4 linked regions of the Homo sapiens genome follow. The protein of the gene in region 4 purifies or fractionates together with the protein of the main gene of each other region. This does not show direct contact. Each region holds a gene or a part of one and is shown on either strand. Other genes may lie near its edges. The genes, in order: SEPTIN7, KIF2C, MYO10 and ENAH.

Region 1 (5,927 bases), on a different chromosome or scaffold from region 4:
TAAATCTCGACACAAAGTATAATGATAAAGAGACTAATTTTCCTATGTATCCCTAGACAAATTACTTTGCAACTTTTGCTCATGACTTCAAAACCTTGGAGAAAGAATCATCTATATGTAGTGTTTACTTCATGGCTAGACTGAAGATATAAATTTAAATTAGCTACATTTATAGAAGGCAAAAAGTAAATCTGTCCAACTCTTACTTAGGGAAAGAAAATCTTATGCTATTTCCATCATTGCTTGCACTTACCTTATCAACATATTTCTTAGGATTGTAAAATCACAATGTTCACCATTTTCAACTGTAAGAAAAAAGCAGACCGCATATGTTATATTTCCACTAAACCTAGTCTTTTCAAAAAATATTTCACAGGAACTTGGGGTGTAAAAACAAGAAGAGGAAATGCAAAACAGATCAATTTTTTTGAGATTTAACACTAACATAGTACACTCAATGTGAGGGCATGACAGAGAAGTGTACTCTATTATTGCCTTATTGTAGTTTAATCCTCAGAAATAGATATGTAAACCTAACAAATGAACTCTCCAGAAACAACTTTGAAATTCTGAAAGGGGAAATCTTATTATTGGTAAAAAATATATTTATTCTATAATACATTTAAAAAATTCAGTGGTGTGAGTGAAGGGAGAATCACTTTAGAAAAAATCTTAAGGTAACCAAAATGAAAAAGGGAGCCAAGAACTTTCAGGTTCTTTACTTTTATTTTTAAAGAATGTATCACAAATAGGAATATTACTTGGGAGTAGAGGGGTAAACTACAAAAGAGAGATGCAAATCAATTTCTCCGGTGCGTATTTTTAAGGGGTAAGTTCTAAAGCCCCAGCTCAGCAAGTAAAAGTTGCCTGGGCATGATAGAGAGAGCTGGGAACAAGGTACACAGGTCACTGATGGGAAAATTGCCAATAAGGACAGTTACCTGAAACAATATCCTAAAAATTAAAGAATTGTTCAAAATAAACCAGGGGCAGTGGTGTGTGCTTATAGTGACGTGATGTGGGAGGAGCATGATGTGGGAGGATCACTTTGAGCTCAGGATTCTGAGGCCAGTTGGGCAACATAGCAAGACCTTGTCTCTTAAAAAAAAAAACGAAGTTCAAAAATAATAGCAACAAACAGATAAAACAATCAAATCTCAATTTTGGTTTCAGCTTACTATAATACAGAAGATTAAGTATCAGATTAAACCAATACAATAAACCTATTGCCAAGAGGAAGTACTTCTGAGGCTTGGTGTTATAACTAAGATTTTATTGGTATTTAAAACTCCTTACTTAACCCTTAATAATTTAAGATAGCAGGTTAAAAAAGAAAACAAAAAACTCCTTACAAAACTAGTAAAGAGGATCTCTTATTAACGAAATTTTTTTACTCTAAATATGAGATATCAAAAAGGGCAACTTTTGCACTGAGGAAAGAAGACTGTGGATGTTTTAACTGGGCTTACAAATTTCTTCAATCATTCTTGAGGGTCCATGACCATCTGACGTTCCGATAAAAGTGACTGGCCTTCTCTCCAAATGTTTGATTCCAGGTGGTTCATTAGATTCCCTGGGAGCAAACTTTGGGCCCCAGGTAAAGAACCCCTCAATTTTAGTTATGTTTTCAAATATGAAAACAGAAATAGACTTAATGATGAGGCAGGATGCCAGCCAGGGTGGGGCAAGTTGAGTATCTCTTATTTGAAATGCTTGGGACCAGAAGTGTTTTGAATTTTTTTGGAATTTTGGAATATCTGTGCTATACTTACTGGTCGAGCATCCTTAATCCAAAAATCCAAAATTCAGAATGCTCCAGTGAGCGCTTCCTTTGAGCAGCATGTCAGTGCTCAAAACGTTTTATTTTGGAGCAATTCACATTTTGAATTTTCTCTTTAAGAATGTTCAACCTATACTACAACTTTAGGACTTAACACACACTTGCCTGACTTGGTAGGATACAGGTTTGAAAAATACCAATGTACTTAAAGAGAAAATTGAGACTACAAGAACCTGAAATCAGTATTATCCTTGAAAATCTAGACTATATCAATACAGTGTGCATACTGTACTACTTACTATAAATACAAATTTTTAATCAGTTTTGAGATATTTTAGAAAGTCATTCACTGAAGAAAATCTTACCTTCAGCAACACCCCAAGGATACTGCCTTCCTCTGACCCTTTTGCCATTAACTTCAATGATAGTATTACTACCTACCACAGCAAGAGGTAAACGGTCCTATAAAACAAAGTATTCTTGTTCAAATACATCTCTGTAGTCCTCACAAATTCAAAAATAAAAAAAGTTACATTACTCAACAGGTTAGCCAAAAAAAAAAAAAATTTACTTTCGATAGTTTCTGCATTAGTTTTTATAGGCCATTTAACAAATATTTAGTAAACTGCCATCACATGGTATTGCCACCAAGGTAAACAATAAATAAAATTAAATTTTCTCTTTAATGTTAAGAATATTCAAGCATATACTGGTCAAATTATTTACTAAAAATCACTACAGAAAGTTGTCCCATACCTGGGGGGGGATAAAAGGTAAAAACTATATTGGCATTTGGGGGAAAAAAAGCGGGGGGCTAATGACTAGCTTGCCTACTTGATCACAAACCAACTATAACAGTACCTAAACCAGGTAATAGTATATTTGTTAAGCTCTAACTTTGGAAATTCAAATCCTGGTGACTGGATTTGTGTTCATCCATGTTCAGCCCTTCACAATTCTGTGGCTCCCAGAAATACCTAAGCAGCTATTTACAACTGCAGAAATTCTTCACAGGCAATGTATAAGAATTTCATTATTCCAAGATATTTGCCTACATAATGCCATTATTCAGTATACCATTTTTAGGGCCAAAGTACATAGAAAACCATGATAAAATACAGAAAATATGTTGATGTGAATTTTTGGTTGGTTTTTATTGTTTTTAATTGAAACATAATTGTACACATTTGTGGGGTACAGTATGGTATTCTGATAACTTTATACAAATATGTAATGATTGAATTAGGGTAATTAGCATATTTATCAATTCAAACTTATTTTTCTGTATTGGGAACATTCATAATCCTCTTCTAGCTATCTGAAAATATAGACTAAATTACTGTTAACTACAGCCACCCTACAATGCTACAGAACGCTAGAACTTACTCCTCCTATCTAGCTGTAATTTTGGTTGGCTTTTATAGAGACAAAATAAATACATTTTTGTCTGGCAATTAAAACATAACAGAACGAATTCTCTCCTTTCTCATCACTTGTTTTTTAAGAGAAAAAAATTACATAATATGAAAGCCAGTTAATTAAAAACACTTTGAAATAAGAATTGTGTTATTCACCTCAGTAGTTTATACAATTCCTTATTATATATACTAGCTAATCTTCAAAGTTAACTATAAAGTTGAATTCAACATTAAATCTCCCTAGGTATTTTGTAAGCCAACTACTTAAAACACTGATACTTTTGATCTTTCCTGTGGACGCTGTAGTATGTTTTTAAGGCCTCAGATTACTTTAGCGTGTGTACAGGGATGAACCTACCTTTATCTTTTTAACAAGTTTATTTTCTTCTTCATCATCTGTTTCTGGAAATTCGTATATTTTAATTTTATGTTCTTGGATTTCTTTCATTATCTAAAATGGAAGAAGTAGTCAGCAAAAGAGCACCATACATAATTAGTATATTAGTCTTATGTTCATTACATGCCTCTTCGATTCCTATATGGGTCCTTGGTTCCAGATCCTTTACTGTTTTTTAATGATGCAAAGTTGTAATCTAAAATTAAAGTACTACGCTAGTCTTTTTTTTTTTTTTAACTATGAAGTTGATATATAAACACCAAATCCAATTACTTCCGAAGTGTTAAAGTCATATAGCTGTCATACCAAAAGAGTTCCAAAAAGGATGTAAAACTCCAGAAAGGGATTTCTCTGATTGATTTCCACAATAATGACTTTAGGTCATTTATTTACAATGACTGAGATTCTTCCTTTAGATATAAATTCCCAAGTATCTTATTTAGTTGAATAAACAGGGCTAAACTCACGTAAAATTTTTAGTAGAATCTGGCAAAAGTAAGGTAAAACTAAGTACAGCACTGCTCCCTGAACATTCATCAGAAAAATCCTTACATGTACATGTGCATACACACAAATTGAGGAGCAACAGGTGTAAGATTAGGGAAGGACACAGGGAGAAAACACATCCTAGAAATTAAGAAGCTCAAGAATTAATAAGGAGAATGCAGAAACCTAGAGAAGACAACTTATTATTAACATCAGAAATGACCTAGTTCAAATTAAATTATCATGTTCAAAATCACTCCAATTCTAAACAGAATACAGACATCCAAATAATTTTCAACTACCTATCCTTATTTGAACCCATAACAAACCAATGGCTAATATACCTAAACCTAGCTTCCCTGTCTATACTTATATTTTGGTGCAACTTTCTTGGCAAAGGTTCCCAGCAGCTATAAAAGGACCCTGAACAAATTGTGTTACATGGTTACTATAGTAGACAGAAGTAAACAGAAGTAAAATTGTCACTGAAAAAAAATAGGACCACACTTCTTTTACAATTAGGGTACGTACCTATATTTAAAAAAAAAAAAAGAATAAACAAGGAATTGACAAATACATGATGACGAGAAAAATGAGTAATAGTAGCTAGCTCTAAAAGCAATGGTTTTAGTCAGAGGTTGTATATTAAAATGACCTGAGTACAACCACCAGGATGTGACCAATTTGAAAGAAGAGGTCACTTCATATTCATCTTTTTTACCTTTATCAGTAAAAATCCAAATCGAAACACATAATAAACAAAAAGAAATGTATTATATGATAGTGTTTGAAACTTAGAAATAGCACATTACAAAACAAAAATGGGAATGGGTAAGTGTAAAACACAAAAATACTAGATACAGTAAAAACAATGTACTAAAACTTTCTGAAAATTAGTATGAATTTAGCACAACTTCAAAGCAAATTTTAACAGGCTTTTTATAACAGGTTTCAAGGTATTCTGAAATTCATATTGAAAAAGGTGAAAAACAAAGTATTTTGTTACAATAGGACTATATGGACAATAGAGATAATTACAATCTACTTTTAAATATTATATAAAGCTGCTGTGGTTTAAACAATATACTACTGGCCTTTGGACTACTGGAATAGAGAAAGGTTCCAGAATTGACCTTACATTTCATAAAATGTAATATATAACGAACCAAACACAATTAAATTAGAAATATGTGTGACTGTGTAACTCAATATTATTGAGACAACTAGACGTGAGTCTAGAAAAACAGTTTAGTGGCCTTCCAGCTAGCTCAGTCATACAGCATGAGACTCTTAATCTTAGGGTCATAGGTTTGAACAATAACTTAAACTATAAATATCCCGTAAAGTGCACTGAAAACAAAATTAGTGCACTGAAAACAAAAATAAGCAGCAAAAGAGAAAACAGAAAAAATATTGTGAAAATGAGAGAGAACTAAATATCCAGAATAAAAAGAACCCATATCAATAAATACGGGTAATACCAAGTACTACTGGTCAAAAAGACAAAGGATTTGAGCAGATGTTTACAAAAAGGGGGAAAAAAATGACTTTGTTTTTAAAATGTTCAGCCTTTCGGGAAAATAAAAGGAAAAGACAAAGAAATGATTGGTTACCACTTCATTCCAAAAAAGTTTTCAAAATAAAAATAACAATGCTGGCAAAGTCACAGTGAAACAGATGTACAAATTTGTTTTATTGGGAAAGCACCATGACAAAATGGGGAGTGGGGAGATAAAGACCCATAAAAACAATCATAGCCTTTGAAAGAATAATCCACTTCCTGGGAATTCATTCTAAGAAAATAATTCAAAAAAAAAAAAAAAAAAAAGAAAAGAAAAAAAAAGAA
Region 2 (5,927 bases), about 180 Mb from region 4:
AGGGCCCATCCTGGGCCCATGTACTATGCTAAAATGCCAGACAATCAATCAGCAAAGAGTCAATAAGCAAAGTGAATTCTCTGGCGCACTGGCTGCAGCCAGATGACAGGCACCTACCTGGATTGTTACATTTTCCTGCAAGGGCAGATTGTCCTTCGGATGTAAGGGAAGAAGCTGTAAGAGTTCTGGGTTTATTGCAGCCACATCATCAAAATCAATCTGCAAGGAGCAAGTAAAAGTTTCAATGAAACAACATTGTTCAATCCAAATACATTTTTTCTTTTTTTTTTTTTTTGAGACAGAGTATCGCTCTGTCGCCCAGGCTGGAGGGCAGTGGTGCGATCTTGGTTCAATGCAACCTCTGCCTCCTGGGTCCAAGCAATTCTCCTGCCTCAGCCTCCTGAGTAGCTGGGACTACAGGCATGCGCCACCACGCCCAGCTAATTTTTGTATTTCCAGTAGAGACAGGGTTTCACCATGTTGGCCAGGATGGTCTCAAACTCCTGGCCTCAGGTGATCTCCCCACCTCGGCCTCCTAAAGTGCTGGGATTACAGGTGTGAGCCACTGTGCCTGGCCCCCCCGAGGCTGAGGCGGGAGAATTGCTGGAATCCAGGAGGCGGAGGTTGCATTGAGCTGAGATTGAGCCACTGCCCTCCAGCCTGGGCAACAGAGCAAGACTCTGTCTCAAAAAACAAAAAACAAACAAACAAACAAAAAAACAACATAGAAAAAATTAAATTTCTATAGACAGGGGTACCCCTAAATTCAAACTTTACCAACTTTAAGTTCCACTAAGTATGAATAGCTATAAAACAAATAGTTACTCCTTAATAATGGTTTACCATCTAGATGGATATGGGTTTCTGATTTCCAAGCCAATGGTAGACGTCAGTGATGAGAATGAGGTGAAGAGGAGGGCAGACAGGCAGGCAAACAGTCGGGTACTCCACAGCAGATCTAGGCCACTTGGCTCCCCTGCTGATCTGCTGGGCAGTGAGGTCCTGCTGGGCACAGCCCCCCAAGCACCTCTTGATGGCTGACACGGAGGAGGAAACAAGTTCTAACTGTCTGGTGAGAGTCAAATGGGGGCCCTTTAGGATCTTATGGGCAGGGGCAAGTTCCTGACAGCTGCTACCTAACCCTAAGACTACCTACATTTTCTTCTGGGCCCAGAAACTTCCCCAGTTACGGCTTCCTGCCCATGCCTTACCTATTTCCTGTTGATGCCTGCAATGAGGTCACAATTCTAAGTTTACATCATCAGAGTCCTGCAATTCTCCAGGAACAACTCAAACTTCACCAGGATAGCTTTACAACAGGTTCAGACATATTAAATTTGTCCCAACTTTGTATTTCAAAATGTGACAGAGCTGAAGCATGTACTCTAGGGTGAGGGCTTTACTGCCTAGAGATGAAACCTGCAGGACTGGGTGCGGTGGCTCACGCCTGTAACCCCAGCACTTTGGGAGGCCGAGGTGGGCGGATTACCTGACCTCAGGAGTTCAAGGCCAGCCTGGGCAACACGGTGAAACCCCTGTCTCTACTAAAATACAAAAAGTTGGCTGGGTGTGGCAGCGTGCACCTGTAATCCCAGCTACTCAGGAGCCTGAGGCAGGAGAATGGCGTGAACCCAGGAGGCGGAGCTTGCAGTGAGCCGAGATCCCGCCACTGCACTCCAGCCTGGGCGACACAGCGAGACTCCGTCTCAAAAAAAAAAGAAAAAGAAAAAAGAAATCTGCAGTTATTTGCTGCCTATTCAAACATTTGTTAGGCACCACGAAGACAGCAGCCTACAGGGGGAAGGTAGTCAAAGATGAATTAAGACATATATAGGCCGGGCGTGGTGGCTCACGTCTGTAATCCCAGCACTTTGGGAGGCTGAGACAGGCAGATCACCTGAGGTCGGGAGTTCAAGACCAGCCTGACCAACATGGAAAAACCCCGTCTCTACTAAAAATAAAAAATTAGCCAGGTGTGATGCATGCCTGTAATCTCAGCTACTCGGGAGGCTGAGGCAGAAGAATCGCTTGAACCCGGGAGGCGGAGGTTGCAGTAAGCCAAGATAGCGCCATCACACTCCAGCCTGGGCAACAAGAGCGAAACACTGTCTCAAAAAAAAAAAAAAAAAAAAAAAAAAGACATATACAACCCCTGCCACCATGAGCTCAATTTCTAATGGGGATTATAAGTCATATGTACAAAGGAAATCAAAGCAGAATGAGATTTAAATAAAAAAAAAAAAAGGAGGATAGAATCACTAAATGCAAAAGCTGGCAAGCACTTCAGTAATCACACTTCTATCCACACTTCTGGGACAGCCACAGACTCTTGGTACATACCTCCCCCATTTCTAACCCCTAAACTACAGAGAGCATAAACAACAAAGAAAACCAGAGGTTTTTTTTTTTTTTTGAGATGGAGTTTCACTCTTGGTGCCCAGGCTGGAGTGCAGTGGCATGATCTCGGCTCACTGGAACCTCCGCCTCCCAGGTTCAAGTGATTCTCCTGCCTCAGCCTCCTGAGTAGCTGAGATTACAGGCATGCGCCACCATGTCCAGCTAATTTTGTATTTTTAGTAGAGACAGGGTTTTACCACGTTGGCCAGGCTGGTCTTGAGCTCCTGACCTCAGGTGATCCGTCCACCTCAGCCTCCCAAAGTGCTGGGATTACAGGCATGAGCCACCACGCCCGGCCTTTTTTAGACGGAATCTCACTCTGTCGCCCAGGCTGCTGGAGTGCAATGGCGCGATCTCAGCTCGCTGCAACCTCCACCTCCCGGGTTCAAGCGATTCTTCCGCCTCAGCCTCCTGAGTAGCTGGGACTACAGGTGCGCACCACCACATCCGGCTAAGTTTTTGGATTTTTAGTAGAGATGCAGGTTCACTATATTGGCCAGGCTGGTCTTGAACTCCTGACCTCATGATCCGCCCGCTTCAGCTTCCCAGAGTGCTGGGATTACAAGTGTGAGCCACCACGACCCGCGAAAACCAGAGTTTTAAGCCTTGCTCTGACAATCAACTGATTCTCATGTTGATAATTCAGGGTGAACATCCCAGGAGAAAGGAATAAGAGTGTAAAGGCAGCAGGGAATTAGGCAGTCACAGAGCAGTAAACTGCCTCATTTGCCAGGGCATAGGATATGTGGAAGAAGAGTATGTGGTACAAAGAAAAAGGGTGATTAGAATCAGAGCTTGAGCCACATGTGGTGGCTCATGCCTGTAATCCCAGCACTTTAGGAGGCCAAGATGGCCAGATCACTTGAGGTCAGGAGTTTGAGACCAGCCTGGTCAACATGGGGAAACCCTGTCTCTACTAAAAATACAAAAATTAGCTGGGTGTGGTGGCAGGTGCCTGTAATCCCAGCTACTTGGGAGACTGAGTGAGGAGAATTGCTTGAACCTGGGGCATGGAGGTTGTAGTGAGCCGAAATCGGCTCACTGAGGGAGATCGTGCCACTGCACTCCAGCCTGGCGATAGAGTGAGACTTTGTCTCAAAAAACAAACAAACAAACAAAAAAAAAAACCAGAGCTTGAAAAGGCTCTGAATGCCCCACTAAGAAGTTCGGATCTTATTCCAAAAGCAGTATTTGATCTGAGGTAAAACAAGGGATATATTTCTAAACAAGCAACAAAAACAAATCACAAAAGACTGATAATAGCTGGTTGAAAGGAATTTTAGGAACCTCTTAATTCTTTAGGGGCAGATAATGGAAAGTATTCAATCCTTTTATTTCTCAAATATACCACCTAAATATCTCTACTATACGTACTATGCTAAGCAAGCTTTTTACATGTTTTATCTTTTTTATTTATTTGTTTTTGAGACAGGGTCTCACTCTGTCACCCAGGCTGGAGTGTAGTGGCTCACTGTAGCCCTGAACTCCTGGGCTCAAGCAATCCTCCTGCCTTAGCCTCTGGAGTAGCTGGGACCACAGGCGCAAGCCACTATGACTGGCTAATTGTTTTTTATTTTTAGTAGAGATGAGGTCTTGCTGTATTTGCCCAGGATGGACTCAAACTCCTGGCCTCAAGAGGTCCTCCTGCCTCAGCCTCCCAAAGTGCTGAGATTACAGGTACTGTGCCCAGCTACATGTATTATTTTATTAAGCTCCATGGAAGAGAGTCCAAGAGTCTGTCTCCTTCACCTCTGTATCCCTAGCACCCAATAAGTGTCTAGCATTTTGGAAGCAGTCCAAAAAATGTGCTGAGTAAATCCTCACAACAACCCTGTGAGGTAGACATTATTATCATCCTCACTTTATAGATGAGGAAACTAAACTTCGAAGAGGGGCAGAAACATGCCTGAGAACACAAAGCAGTGGCAGAGCCAGACTAGAATCCAGGTTTTCATACTCCTAGCCCAGTGACCTTTTCACTACACCACAATGCCACTAGAACAGAAATGTCTTAGTCACAGTGCTCTCCTCAAAATCCTTCCAAGGTTCCCCACTGCCTACAGAAGAAAACCTAACCAGCTCAGTGCCAGACATGAAGACCTTTGTCTCCTTTTTCAGCTGTTTTGCGGCTGCCAAGCATCCTGGGCCCTGCACTGCTCGTGGCCAGCTTCTTCATGGTCCCCATGTGTGCCATCTTGCTGCTTCAGCTAAGCCTTCACACTCCACCCTCTAAGCCCAGCCCATTCTCAGCAAGTTTCCACCTCTGAGCTGCTCTAGCAATGCTCATCTGTGCCATTCATCACAAGTTGTCTTCTGTTAGTTGGTTAGTTGGTGATTCAGAAACGTCTTTTTGTCTCCTCAACCAGGTTATTGATTTCATTCACCAAACTGATATCACAGGTAGTGTGCATGCAGAACCTAGCTTGGGCAAGCAAAGTTTTCTAAAACCTAAAATTCTGTGCAGTTTGTTTTTTTTTTTTTTTTTTTGAGACGAAGTTTCACTCTGTTGCCCAGGCTGGAGTGCAGTGGCATGATCTCAGCTCACTGCAACCTCTGCCTCCCAGGTTCATGTGATCCTCCTGCCCCAGCTTCCCAAGTAGCTGGGATTACAGGCCCGTGCCACCACACCCAGCTAATTTTTGTATTTTTAGTAGAGATGGGGGTTTCGCTATGTTGGCCAGGCTGGTCTCAAACTCCTGATCTCAAGTGATCCGCCCACCTCGGCCTCCCAAAGTGCTGGGATTACAGGCATGAGCCACTGCGCCTGGCTGCAGTTTGCTTTCTACAAACATACCAGAGCCGGGCATGGTGGCTCACGCCTGTAATCCCAGCACTTTGGGAGGCAGAGGCAGGCGGATCACGAGGTCAGGAGATCGAGACCATCCCGGCTAACACAGTGAAACCCCATCTCTACTAAAAATACAAAAAATTAGCCGGGCGTAGTGGCGGGCACCTGTAGTACCAGTTACTCGGGAGGCTGAGGCAGGAGAATGACGTGAACCCGGGAGGCGGAGCTTGCAGTGAGCTGAGATCTCGCCACTGCACTCCAGCCTGGGTGACAGAGTGAGACTCTGTCTCAAAACAAACAAACAAACAAACAAAAAAAACCCAGAAAATTATTGATTGCTTCAATTTAGAATGGACCTGACTAAATAAAATCCCAATGCATCTGGAAGGGGACCATTCTTTTTTTTTTTTTTTTTTTTTTTGAGACAAGTCCTCATTCTGTTGCCCAGGAGGCTGGAGAGCAGTGGTGCAATTTCAGCTCACTGAAACCTGTGCTTTCCCAGACTCCAGCAATTCTCCAGCCTCAGCCTCCAGAGCAGCTGGGACCACAGGCATGCACCACCATGCCCGGCTAATGTTTTTTGTATTTTTTGTAGAAATGAGGTTTTGTCATGTTGCCCAGCCTGGTCTTGAACTGCTGAGCTCAAAGCGATCTGCCCACCTCGGCCTCCCAAAGTGCTGGGATTATACATGTGAGCCACTGTGCCCAGCCAAGAAGACCATTTTTATTTTTTGAGGAAAGG
Region 3 (5,927 bases), on a different chromosome or scaffold from region 4:
TCTTGTTTTCTAAGTGCTTTATTTTGTTTTAATATTTTTATTATTACTATTACAATTTTGGAGACAGTCTCCCTCTGTCACCCAGGCTGGAGTGCAGTGGCTCACCGTAATCTTCACCTCCCGGATTCAACCGATTCTCCTGCCTCAGCCTTCCAAGTAGTTGCGATTACAGGCCCATGTCACCACGCCCAGCTAATTTTTGGATTTTATTAGAGACAGGGTTTCACTATGTTGCCCAGGCTGGTCTCGAACTCCTGACCTCAGGTATCCACCTGCCTCGGCCTCCCAAAGTGCTGGGATTACAGGCATGAGCACATGGCCCTAAGTGCTTTAGTATGTAAACCTTCCTACTATCCTCATGAAGTTGGGACAACCAGCTTTAGAAACCACACTTTATGGGCCGGGCATGACGGCTCACACCTGTAATCCCAGCACTTTGGGAGGCTGTGACGGGTGGATCACAAGGTCTGGAAATCGAGACCATTCTGGCCAACAAGGTGAAACCCCATCTCTACTAAAAATATCAAAAATTAGCCGGGTGTGGTGGCAGGCGCCTGTAGTCCCAGCTACTTGGGAGGCTAAGGCAGGAGAATCGCTTGAACCTGGGAGGTGGAGGTTGCAGTGAGCCGAGATCACACCATTGCACTCCAGCCTGGGCGACAGAGCAAGACTCCATCTCAAAAAACAACAACAACAACAAAAACACACACACACATTTTTAGAAGGAAACAGAAGGCGCTTGGCTTTCCCAAAAAAAGCAAATCAAATAAAAATTAGTGGCATGTTTTTTTTTTGGTTTTTTTTTGAGACGGAGTCTTGCTCTGTCGCCCAGGCTGGAGTGCAGTGGCGCGATCTCAGCTCACTGCAAGCTCCGCCTCCTGGGTTCACGCCCTTCTCCTGCCTCAGCCTCCCGAGTAGCTGGGACTACAGGTGCCCGCCACCATGCCCGGCTCATTTTTTGTATTTTTAGTAGAGATGGGGGTTTCACCGTGTTAGCCAGGATGGTCTCCATCTCCTGACCTCGTGATCCGCCCACCTCGGCCTCCCAAAGTGCTGGGATTACAGGCATGAGCCACTGCACCCGGCCAAATCAGTGGCATGTTCAAAAGCTGATGAACATTTTCCTGCGGAGTTTTCAACATTTCTAGGGTGTGGACTACTTGTTTTCCTAAACTCCCATGCAGTTTTCCACTTGAAAATCATTTAATAACTGCCCACTTTTAGGGCATTTCATCAGAGAGCCTAGAGAAGATGACGCAAGTTTAAGGCAAAGGACATCAACAGGACAGAAAAGCATGGCAGTGAAGAACTCTCTGTGGCTCTGGACACAGCCTGTCTGGGTTCAAATCCTGGCTATCGTTTTCTAGCTGTGTGACACTGAGTCAGTTACTTAACCTCTCTGTGCCTCACTTTCTTCATCTATGGATTGGGTATAATTATAGAGCCTTTCCCATAGGGTTGTTCAAGGGATTAAATGAGTCACTAAATGTGAAGTGCCAGCAACATGCCTGGCACATGGTAAGTACAGTTGTCCCTATGTATCTATAGGGAACTGGTTCCAAGACCTTCCCCAGATACCAAAATCCATGGGGAAAAGTCTACATGTTCAGTACAGATGCAATTTTTTTCTTGAATATTTTCAATCAGAGGTTGGTTGAATCCAGAGATGCAGAACCCACAGATACTGAGTACAGGGCTGACTGTACTCAAGAAACACTAGCCATATTTATTATTGTCTTCAAAGAACTGTAAGATACTTCATAATCAAGGGAAAAAGTTAGAAGCATCTCCCCTTCCCGCCATAAAATAATCTGAAAATAACCATTATGCAAGGATTGAATCTCAACCATGAGGACATTTCAATGCCAAGGAAGTGATGAAACTTACTTACAAATAAGATATTTAACCTCGCAAGGCTGTTTACTCATTTGAAAAGGGGAGAGGGTTTGTAAAGCATGTAAAGCCTCTAGCTAACAGCAGTAAATCCCTCCTAACAAGACCAAGACAGAAAGAGAGCCAGGTTTAGAGGTAAGAGAATAGAGGTCACCGTGAACTAGACCTGTTAGAGACGGTTTCAAAAAGGAGCCAGACAGGTGGGACATTCGATAGACAGAGAGGCCTGCCTGCACAAAGGATGGAGTGGAACTGGGTAACAGATCCTCTGGTGTAGGATCACGTGCGAGAAAAGAATAAAGAGAGAGTTACAAGATCAGAAAACCTTGAAAACCAGACTGAGGAATGTGGACTTAATTTTATAAGCAATAAGAACATGCTTTAGACAGAGTTCTGGAAATACAAAATCTGCCAGAAATGTACAGGCTGAAAAAGAGAAAACAAATAAATGCAACGCACCACAGGAAGCTACCTCAGAACAAAAAGCTCTAAGGTCGAGATTTCCCTGCACCAGGAGTACTGACATTCCATTCACCAAGGGCCACTGGTTCTTAATTTCAAAGTACAGTTACTGTGACCAAGCCTTTGTTATTACTCACCTACTATGTGCCAAGGGCTCTGTAAGTCCTCTCTCAAATTCGGCTGATAACCATGCAAACTAGGAACTATTACGCCCATTTACAGACCAGAGAGCTCAAGTTCAGGATTTAGAGCATCTGGCTGAGATCCCATCGGAGGGAGCCAAGCGCTACTGCTAAGATAGGATGCTCTGCACTCAGCCTGGGGGCAGTTAGGCAAGGGGAAACGCTTAATCCAGACTTCACCGGAGGCTCATTCTTGAACGTCCCCTACTAGCTAGTGACATGAAAATGTTACGTAGCAGTTACTCTAAGTCCAAACTGTTGAAACTCATGAATAATAAGGTACTCCCGGCTGGGCATGGTGGCTCATGCCTGTAATCCCAGCACTTTGGGAAGCCAAGGCAGGCGGATCACCTGAGGTCGGGAGTTCGAGACCAGCCTGACCAACATGGAGAAACCCCATCTCTCCTAAAAATACAAAATTAGCTGGGTGTGGTGGTGCATGTTTGTAATCCCAGCTACTCGGGAGGCTGAGGCAGGAGAATCGCTTGAACCCGGGAGGCGGAGGTTGTGGTGAGCCGAGATCGCACCATTGCTCTCCAGCCTGGGCAACAAGAGCAAAATTCCATCTCAAAACAATAATAATAATAATAGTAATAATAATAAGATACTCCATGTCCTACCAATCACAACAGCAGGAGAGCACATTCAAGGTTTACATCCTCAAATGTGAGCCCACTTAAAGCCAGCTGAACTGGAAAAGCAAACACTCTGCTCTCTCCCTCCACCACTCTGGTTAAACAGTGAGGGACCTGCCCATGCCAGCTTGTTCCTGGTTTGTGCTTGATTTTGCAGGAACAGCCGGCCACATGATATGGAGTGAGGAAGCAGTCCTACCCTGCCCGCCCCAGCCAGACAGCTTATTGCTCCTGCTGCAACAACTGTCCCACTGCAGCTGCTCCCCCTGGCTTTGCTGTCCCCAACATAGCAGGGGGAAAAAAAAAATGAGTACTTGACAATAGAAATGTTTTCAAACTACAGAGAAGAGGCAACACGCTATATCTCCATTGTGAGAAAAGGGAAAGGGACCCAGCTAATCTCCTGATATGATTTTATAGTCATCAAAGGGGTTGCCTTCAGGAATTGGTGATACAAGAAGTCCTCAGCAGTTCCCCTTTACACATGGAGACATATCGAGGGTGAGGAGAGAAAGCTGCCAAAAATAACAATGTCCACATTTTTCTCTAACAAGAAAAGATGTCAATAGATCACAAACAAAAAAAATATACAACCAAATGGGGAGAAAATTGGCTTGGGAACTCTACTCACTTAAAAAGCTATTTGAACAACTCCAGATAACCAACCACAACCACAGTCCCTTGTCAAGTTAAGTAGAAGAGGTTGGTGTTTCCACTTAACGTCTTTAGAATGAAGTCTGCTCTAATCCAGAGTGAACCAGACTGGAAGAAACAGGTATGTCTGGAATATTTTCCACTAACAATTTATCCCTTAAACATTAATACCTGCTTTCTGTATTTGTATTTGTGAGTATCTTACTTGTGTACATTTTACATATTTATTCTGAAAATCAAGGTGTTTGATTAGTCTCACTAATAATCCTCCGAGATCTTGTATTTGAACAGACACATCACACCTCTGCCTAACAGGGAAACAGAAAGGTCAATTTCATTTGGTACTTACTGGCCCCTACTATATTCCAGGCACTGTACTTGGCCCTGAAGACATGAAAACAGTGTCCACTTCAGCACATCAACACAAGTTTGCACAGTAGCCTTGCCCCTTTCCTGGTTGAGCCTTTTCTGTTTGCTTTTTTTATTATTATTGCTTCTGGTTACAGACACATCTAAACTTAGTTTCTGGCTGAAGTAAACTTAACAACTTACTTAGAAATGCTGAAAAAACAAGCTTCCCCAAAGCATACACACAATTAACTCGAGGGGAGCCATAAAATTCTAATGAAGGCCATGAAGAAACTGAAACTGAGGAATGTGGCATGCTCAGTTTCTCTAATCCTGGAGAACATTTTGAAGTCAGCAGCTGTCAGCTGACTGGCACAAGCTTTGCAAGCTTCCCCCTGGCGCGCAGTAAGACACTATCTATCTAATTAATCAATCAATCTAGCAGGCAGTAAGAGTCTATCTATTTTGTGACACAGGGTCTGTTGCTCTGGAGCGCAGCGGTGCAATCATGGTTCACTGCAGCCTGGACCTCCTGGGCTCACCTCAGCCTCCAGAATGGCTGGAACTACAGGTGCATACCACCACACTCAGCTAAGTTTTGTAGAGATGAGGTTTCACCATGTTGCCCCGGCTGGTCTTGAACTCCTGGGCTCAAGCAGTCCTCCCACCTCAGCCTCCCAAAGTGCTGGGATTACAGGCTTGAGCCACCGCACCCGGCCAAATCCTATTTAAAACAGGGAAGCGCAGACAAGGCTGTGCCTGCAACACAAATAGGAATTAATACCGCCAAACAACTGCTTCACAGGTCTAGCTCAGTGGATCTCAACTGGGAGTGATTTTGCTCCCCTGTCATTCAGCAATGTCTGCAGACCTTTCGGGTTGTCACAACTTGGGGGATAGGGTTAACAATTACTGAGTAGAGTCCAGGGATGCGTTTAACCTCCTACAACACACAGGACGGCCTCCAACAACAAAGAATTACTCAGCAATGGTACCAGGTTTGAGAAACCCTGGTCTAGCTAGAAATAGCAGTTGCGAATCACAAGCAGCTCCCATTTCCTTATTATTTGGCCATTCATACACAAAGCTAAACAGGCAACATCTCATTCAGTAATTTTTCCCCAATTGTTAGCACTGGCTTTAAACTGTTGTCCAACAAGCAACAAGTCATTTACCCCTAAGCCACAATGGGAAAAGTTAGCAAAGACAGAATTCTACTTAGTGATAAGGAGGCCAAACAATTTAGCTGTCCTTGGGGAATATATCACTTCCACACTCGCTGTTTCTATTCTAACAGGACATTAATTACAGCATTTTCTTCACTGGACAATTTAACAAAAGGATGCTCCATTACAAGACATGAGAGAGAGAAAGGGGAGCTGGGATCTATGTTAAGAGTATGTCTACAATTAATACCTCACTATTTAACCTCTCTGACTGGCCCTGCTTCCTTCCCACTCAAAGTGATTAGATTTAAGGGTGGAACTTTCACGGCTGATTAGAAGTTAATATTGTAATACACATACATCACAAGATTAAAAGTATAACCTTAAAATAAGCGAAAAGTTCCCAGAAATACCAAAGTCACCAGCAGCAAAGGAAAAAGGCTCTGGATTCGTGAACAAGCTCTTCAAAGCTGGGCAAGGGACTTACTCATATCTTTGGGTTAAGATTCTGTCTACAAAATGAAGAGGAGAAAGTAGAAGATCACTAATGGCCAACTGCAAAATAATATTGATCACAGAAATAAAAT
Region 4 (5,927 bases):
AGGAGACTGAAATGGGAGGACTGTTTGAACCCAGGAGGCAGAGGTTGCAGTGAGCCGAAATCGCATGACTGCACACACTCCAGCCTGGGTGAGAAAGAGTGAGACTCCATCTCAGGAAAAAAAAAAAAAAAAAGAAGATACATATAGTAAAGTTTACATTATGACCACCAATGAATCGCACCTCTTGATCTGTCCTTGTGTAATCACCTCCCCCACTGACTTTGGGCTTGACCATATGACTTGTTTTGGCCAAAGAAACATAAGCAAACAGGATGCAAGCTGAGGTCTGGTAAGAGCTTTCATACTAGGGCATGTTGTCATGAGGAGGCTGCTATTGTTAAGTGAGCGATGAGGCAGAGGGATGGGATAGACACACCAGATGAACCTAAGTGAAGGAAAACACACGAATGAGTCCAGGTAAGAAGAGCTGCCCAGCCAATCCGTAGCACATCTGCAGTCTCAGCTACTCAGGAAGCTGAGGTGGGAGGATCACTTGAGCCCAGGAGTTCGAGGTTGCAGTAAGCTATGATTGTACCACTGCACTCCAGCCCGGGTAACAGCTTTACTAGGCTTTGAGATGCTTTGTTAAACAGCAGTAATATCGGATACGATATATGTATATGCACTATGAAGAGTTAATATCCTCATTATTATAAATCATTAGAAGAAAAACTACACATCTCATTGGGAAAACAGAAAAAGCACATGAACAGACATCCACACAAAAATAAAGCTGTCCAATAAACAAACAAAGAGACCCTACAGGTAATCAAAGAAATACAAATTAAACCAATGAGGTAACACCTTTTACCTATCACATTGGCAAAGATTAAAAGACCGATAATGGCCTGAGCTGGCCAGAATGTGGGGTAACTAGAAATCTCATCTACTCTTGCTTATCTGGTAACGTGTATCAAAAACTGATACAACTCCCTTTAGTCATTTTGTTTATTATTCACTCAAATACTTATGCATACTCACAGAGGCCTGTGCTGGGAACTTGGAATGCAGAGCCAGGTCACGCAAGACCTTAATAATTTTGGTTTTATGACAAATTTGGGTTTTAGTCTAAGATGCCGCTGAAGGCTTTACATGGGAAATAACAATATCTGATTTCCACTTTAAGAGTATTCTGAGTGATGCATGAAGAACAGGGGACATGAATGGAAATGAGGAAACACTAATAGTTCAGGTAAGAGATAACAGTGGCCTGGACTTGAGGCAGTGAGATGGACAGAAGCAAGTGAAGGTGACCTGGTAGGACAATGATAGACTGGATACAGAAAGGTAAAGAAACAAAAAATAAAAAAAAAAACAAAACACAGCACTACTTCTTGATTTTACTTCTAGGAATGTATCCTAAAACAGTATCAGATATGTACACAAAGACATATAACCAAAGATGTTCACAGCAGTGTTTTTTATAATAACAAAAATAATGGAACAAATCTAAAAGTCCATCTTTAAGATTTAAGTAGACAAAGTCATCCATCCAAAGCAATGGAATATTATGCAGTCACTTAAAGTTATGTAGCTATATAGTTAGGAACAAGAATTACTGGCTGGACACAGCAGCTCATGCCTGTAATCCGAGTGCTTTGGGAGGCTGAAGTGGGAGGATGACTTGAGGCCAGGAGTTCAAGACCAGCCTGGGCAACATAGCGAGACCTTGTCTCTGCACAAAAATCTTAACAATTAGAGGGTGTGGTGGCGCACATCTGTAGTCTCAGCTACTCAGGAGGCTGAGATGGGAGGATCGCTTGAGCCCAGGAGTTCGAGGCTGCAGTAAGCTATGATTGCACCACTGCACTCCAGCCTGGGTGACAGTTTAAGACCCTATTTAAAAAATAAAAATAATAAAATGTAAAAAGTATAGATATTATATATATGGAAAGGGACAAGCTACAAAATACACAATACAAATATAGTATAATTCCATTTTTAAATAGTATAATCTTACTTTTATATATAATCATATGCACACGCACAATGATCTGCAATGCTGCAAATGCACTACAAAAAGTTTAGAAATCTACACATTAAAATATTAAAATACTAGATGGCTTGGATTTAACATTTCATAAATAAATGTTTTATACTTTCCATACCTTCTAAAATCTGTTCAAAATCTGTACTACTTTACAATGGAAGGAAAAAAGTAATTTAAAAAAATACTGACCAGACATATGGACAACAGTAATTGATTTATTTTTCTAAAAATAATTCTAAAAAAATTGTGCAAAGACCACAATTAAGTAGACTGTAAGTAAAAGTTTTAAATGAAAACTTAAGATACATAAATCTTAAATTGTTAAAAACTGAACGGTCACAATTTTGCTTGCAATATCAGTCTAACATGAGAATTTGGGGGAGGAGGAGAAAGACTGCAGAACAAAGCAGATATTCAAATAACCAGTATATAATAATTATTAAGACTGCATAAAAAGATCCCTTCACTGAACTGTAAAAGGAGCAATTTGGACTCCCTTGAGATTTGACCTCAAGAGCTATTCATTTTATTTTACTTAAGTTCTTGGTTCTTCATAAAGCTCCCCCGCTGCCAAGTTGCAAATGTAACAGATACCAAAAAGGACAGAAGACTGAGGACCTCTAAGGCACAGTTAAAGGTAGTCATTTTGATTTCACATCATCAGATGTATTCTTACCAAGACCAGATGTTCTATAAGGCCTTTACCACTGGAAAAGGGCTCAGTTTATTTAAAAATATCATGATTACCTCATTCCCCAAAGACAAAACTTTTGGTATTTGAGACTACTGTAAACAAACCCCAGAAAATCACCACCCAGATTTAAGTTTTCTGAAGATTCTGATGGATTTGCTTCATCACATTTTACTGGTGACTTTAGTCATCCTTACTTACAACAGGCCTACCAAAGAGATGGCTGGCTGTCTCCTTAGCACGAAGATACAGCTCCAAAATTTGTTCAGGCCTTTCAAAGCCACCACTACCAAGGTTTCCACCTCAGCATTCCCACGTGCTTGTTTCCCTACAGAGAAATGTCCAGTGGTTCTATCTTCAATCTCTCTTCTTTAAATAGCACGAAGATGTCAATTCAAAATATTAATCCAAAGTAATAAAAATGTCAGAAACAACTCACGTAAAAAGCAAATGAGATCTTCTGGTGTTATTATATAGATCTGTCTATTCTGGGCATTTCATATAAATGGAATCATGGCATATATCGCCTTTTGTGTCTGGCTTATTTCACTTAGCATAATGCTTCCATCTACGCTGTGGCATGTATCAGAATTCCATTCCTTTTGATGGCCAAATATTATTCTGTTGTATGGACATACCACATTTTGATGATCTATTCATGAAATCAGACACACCTGGGTTATTTCTGCTTTTTGGCTGTTATGAATAACGATACTATAGACATTTGTGTACAAGTTTTTCTGTGGACAAATGTTTTCATTTCTAGGAAAGGAATTGCTGGGTCATACGATAACTCTATGTTTAACTTTTGAGGAACTGCCAAACTGTTTTCTAAAGCAGCTGCACCATCTTACATGGTTTTTCACATTCTTAACATAAACTTAAGAGATGTCAGACTTTCATAAAAGTGGGGGATTTACTCTTATCAAGCTCATTTTGTGTGCCAAGTGTTATGCCAGAATTTTATTTAATTTTCTCAACAGCTCTATAATTCACAAAGTATATTCGATCCCAAAAAATGTTTATAACCCACTCAAAAATAAATTATTTAGTAAATGTCAAACTAGAGTCAAACCCAGAGTTAACTTCAAAGCCTGTCCTCTTTACCCTACACCATTCAATCTCTACACTTAGATATACATACATTGCCTCATACCCAAAGTAGTCTTTGGAAAAGTTGCCTGTTAATAAAACTTACTTTAATCATTGTAAAATAGAAGGTTCCCAGTGTAAAGAGATTTCTAGAAAATTTAACGGATATCTTGTATAAATCAATCAACCCCCCTAATTTATCTTCTTTAGTAAACAACTTCTGGTTACTTAAAACAAAACTTATCTAAAGTTCACCTAAATATTAAACAAATTATTTTCTTCCAAAGTTGTATGCACTGACAAAAAAAAAAAATGTAGTTATCTTCTGCTATAGACTGAACTGTGTTCCCCTAAAATTTATATGTTAATACCCTAACCCTCAATGTGACTCTATTTGGAAAAAGGGCTTTTAGGAGGTAACTAATGTTAAATTAAGTTATAAGCACAGGGCCCTAATTCAATAGGATTAATGGCCTTATGAAATGAGGAGGAGAGAGAAATCCCCCCTCATCTCCCCGACCCCAGGATTCCCATACCCACCCTACCATGTGAGGACACAGAGAGAAGGATATCTTCTGCAAGCCAGGAAGAGAACCCTCACCAAAACCCATCCATACTGGCAACCTGATCTCTGACTTCCAGCCTCCAGAACCTTAAAATAAATGTCTAGGCCGGGCGCTGTGGCTCCCACCTGTAATCCCACGAGGTCAGGAGATCAAGACCATCCTGGCTAACACAGTGAAACCCCATCTCAACTAAAAAATACAAAAAAATTAGCCAGGCGTGGTGGCAGGCGCCTGTGGTCCCACCTGCTCAGGAGGCTGAGGCAGGAGAATGGTGTGAACCCGGGAGGCAGAGCTTGCAGTAACCTGAGATCGAGCCGCTGCAATCCAGCCTGGGCGACACAGTGAGACTGTCTCAAAAAAATTAATAAATAAAAATAAAAAATAATTTTCTGTTGTTTAAGCCACCCAGTCTATGGTATTTTGTTATGGCAGCCCACACTAATACTTCAAGAGTATCATACACTACCCAGTGATTGGTATTTGAAGCACTGATAAGAATCAAAACAAAGCAGGGCTGGGGGCGGTGACTCACGCCTATAATCCCAGCACTTTGGGAGGCTGAGGTGGGCGCATCACGAGGTCAGGAGATCAAGACCATCCTGGCTAACATGTTGAAACCCCATCTCTACTAAAAATACAAAAAATTAGCTGGGCGTGGTGGCACGCGCCTGTAGTCTCAGCTACTCGGGAGGCTGAGGCTAGAGAATTGCTTGAACCCAGGAGGCGGAAGCTGCAGTGAGTGGAGATCATGCCACTGCACTCCAGCCTGGGCAAGAGTGAGACTCCATCTCAAAAAACAAAAACAAAAAAAGAATCAAAACAAAGCAAGCACTAAATGGGGTAAAAATAAATTAAACCAATAGAGATGCATATGCTTGTTACTTGAAAATATTTACAAGTTCTTTGGTCAAAGAGACTTAAAAACAGATTGATGGCCCTTTCAGTAATTCAGAATTTAATCATAAAGTCAAGTAAACATGGTATCCTCCAAAGGGCTTAGAATTTAGACAATCCTGACACTTGTAGCCACTTCCAAGCTCTGTGTTAGAATAAGAAATAAATTCTGGCCAGGTGAGTTCAAAACCTGCCTGGTCCACATAGCAAGACCACATCTCTACAAAATAAAAATTAAATTAAAATTTAAAAAAGAACAAAAGAAAACCAAATTCTACACCTATTCCTGGAGTCAGGATGTGAGTTTTTGCTTGCTTAATTAAATTATGTTATTAACATTTAGTATCCACCAAATACTACACTACACCCTACAATATCCAGTAGAGCTTCTAGAACACTACAGGTATTCCAAAAATGGGGTTGCTAGTGAACAGATTCTATAAAAGAGCAACGCAGTCAAAGTCAAACACTTACACAGGCCACCCACTATTTGCCAAGTATTTTGCTAGTACCATGAATATAAAAATGCTAGTATTTTGCTAGTACCATGAATATAAAAATCCTCTTCAAGGAACTTACAATGAAGAGGGACAAAAAGAACCACATAATTATAAGACAGAATAAATTCAATAGCAAAAAAACATGTAAAGTGCACTGGAACACACAGGAATAGTGGGGGACAAGGGGGTTGGGG

The links.
Region 1: the proteins of ENAH (region 4) and SEPTIN7 fractionate together in Homo sapiens (co-fractionation; one large-scale study listed by BioGRID). This does not show direct contact.
Region 2: the proteins of ENAH (region 4) and KIF2C purify together in Homo sapiens (co-immunoprecipitation; one large-scale study listed by IntAct). This does not show direct contact.
Region 3: the proteins of ENAH (region 4) and MYO10 purify together in Homo sapiens (co-immunoprecipitation; one study listed by IntAct). This does not show direct contact.

The regions. Positions count from the first base shown.
Region 1 is NC_000007.14:35,880,206-35,886,132, reverse strand, and holds part of SEPTIN7 (septin-7), read right to left. Parts: intron 3,650-5,927; coding exon 3,557-3,649; intron 2,243-3,556; coding exon 2,146-2,242; intron 306-2,145; coding exon 254-305; intron 1-253.
Region 2 is NC_000001.11:44,741,676-44,747,602, reverse strand, and holds part of KIF2C (kinesin-like protein KIF2C), read right to left. Parts: intron 1,210-5,927; exon of another isoform or gene 847-1,209; coding exon of another isoform or gene 844-846; intron 220-843; coding exon 118-219; intron 1-117. UniProt on the Homo sapiens protein: In complex with KIF18B, constitutes the major microtubule plus-end depolymerizing activity in mitotic cells. Regulates the turnover of microtubules at the kinetochore and functions in chromosome segregation during mitosis.
Region 3 is NC_000005.10:16,928,166-16,934,092, forward strand, and holds part of MYO10 (unconventional myosin-X), read right to left. Parts: intron 1-5,927. UniProt on the Homo sapiens protein: Myosins are actin-based motor molecules with ATPase activity. Unconventional myosins serve in intracellular movements. MYO10 binds to actin filaments and actin bundles and functions as a plus end-directed motor.
Region 4 is NC_000001.11:225,642,094-225,648,020, forward strand, and holds part of ENAH (protein enabled homolog), read right to left. Parts: intron 1-5,927. UniProt on the Homo sapiens protein: Ena/VASP proteins are actin-associated proteins involved in a range of processes dependent on cytoskeleton remodeling and cell polarity such as axon guidance and lamellipodial and filopodial dynamics in migrating cells.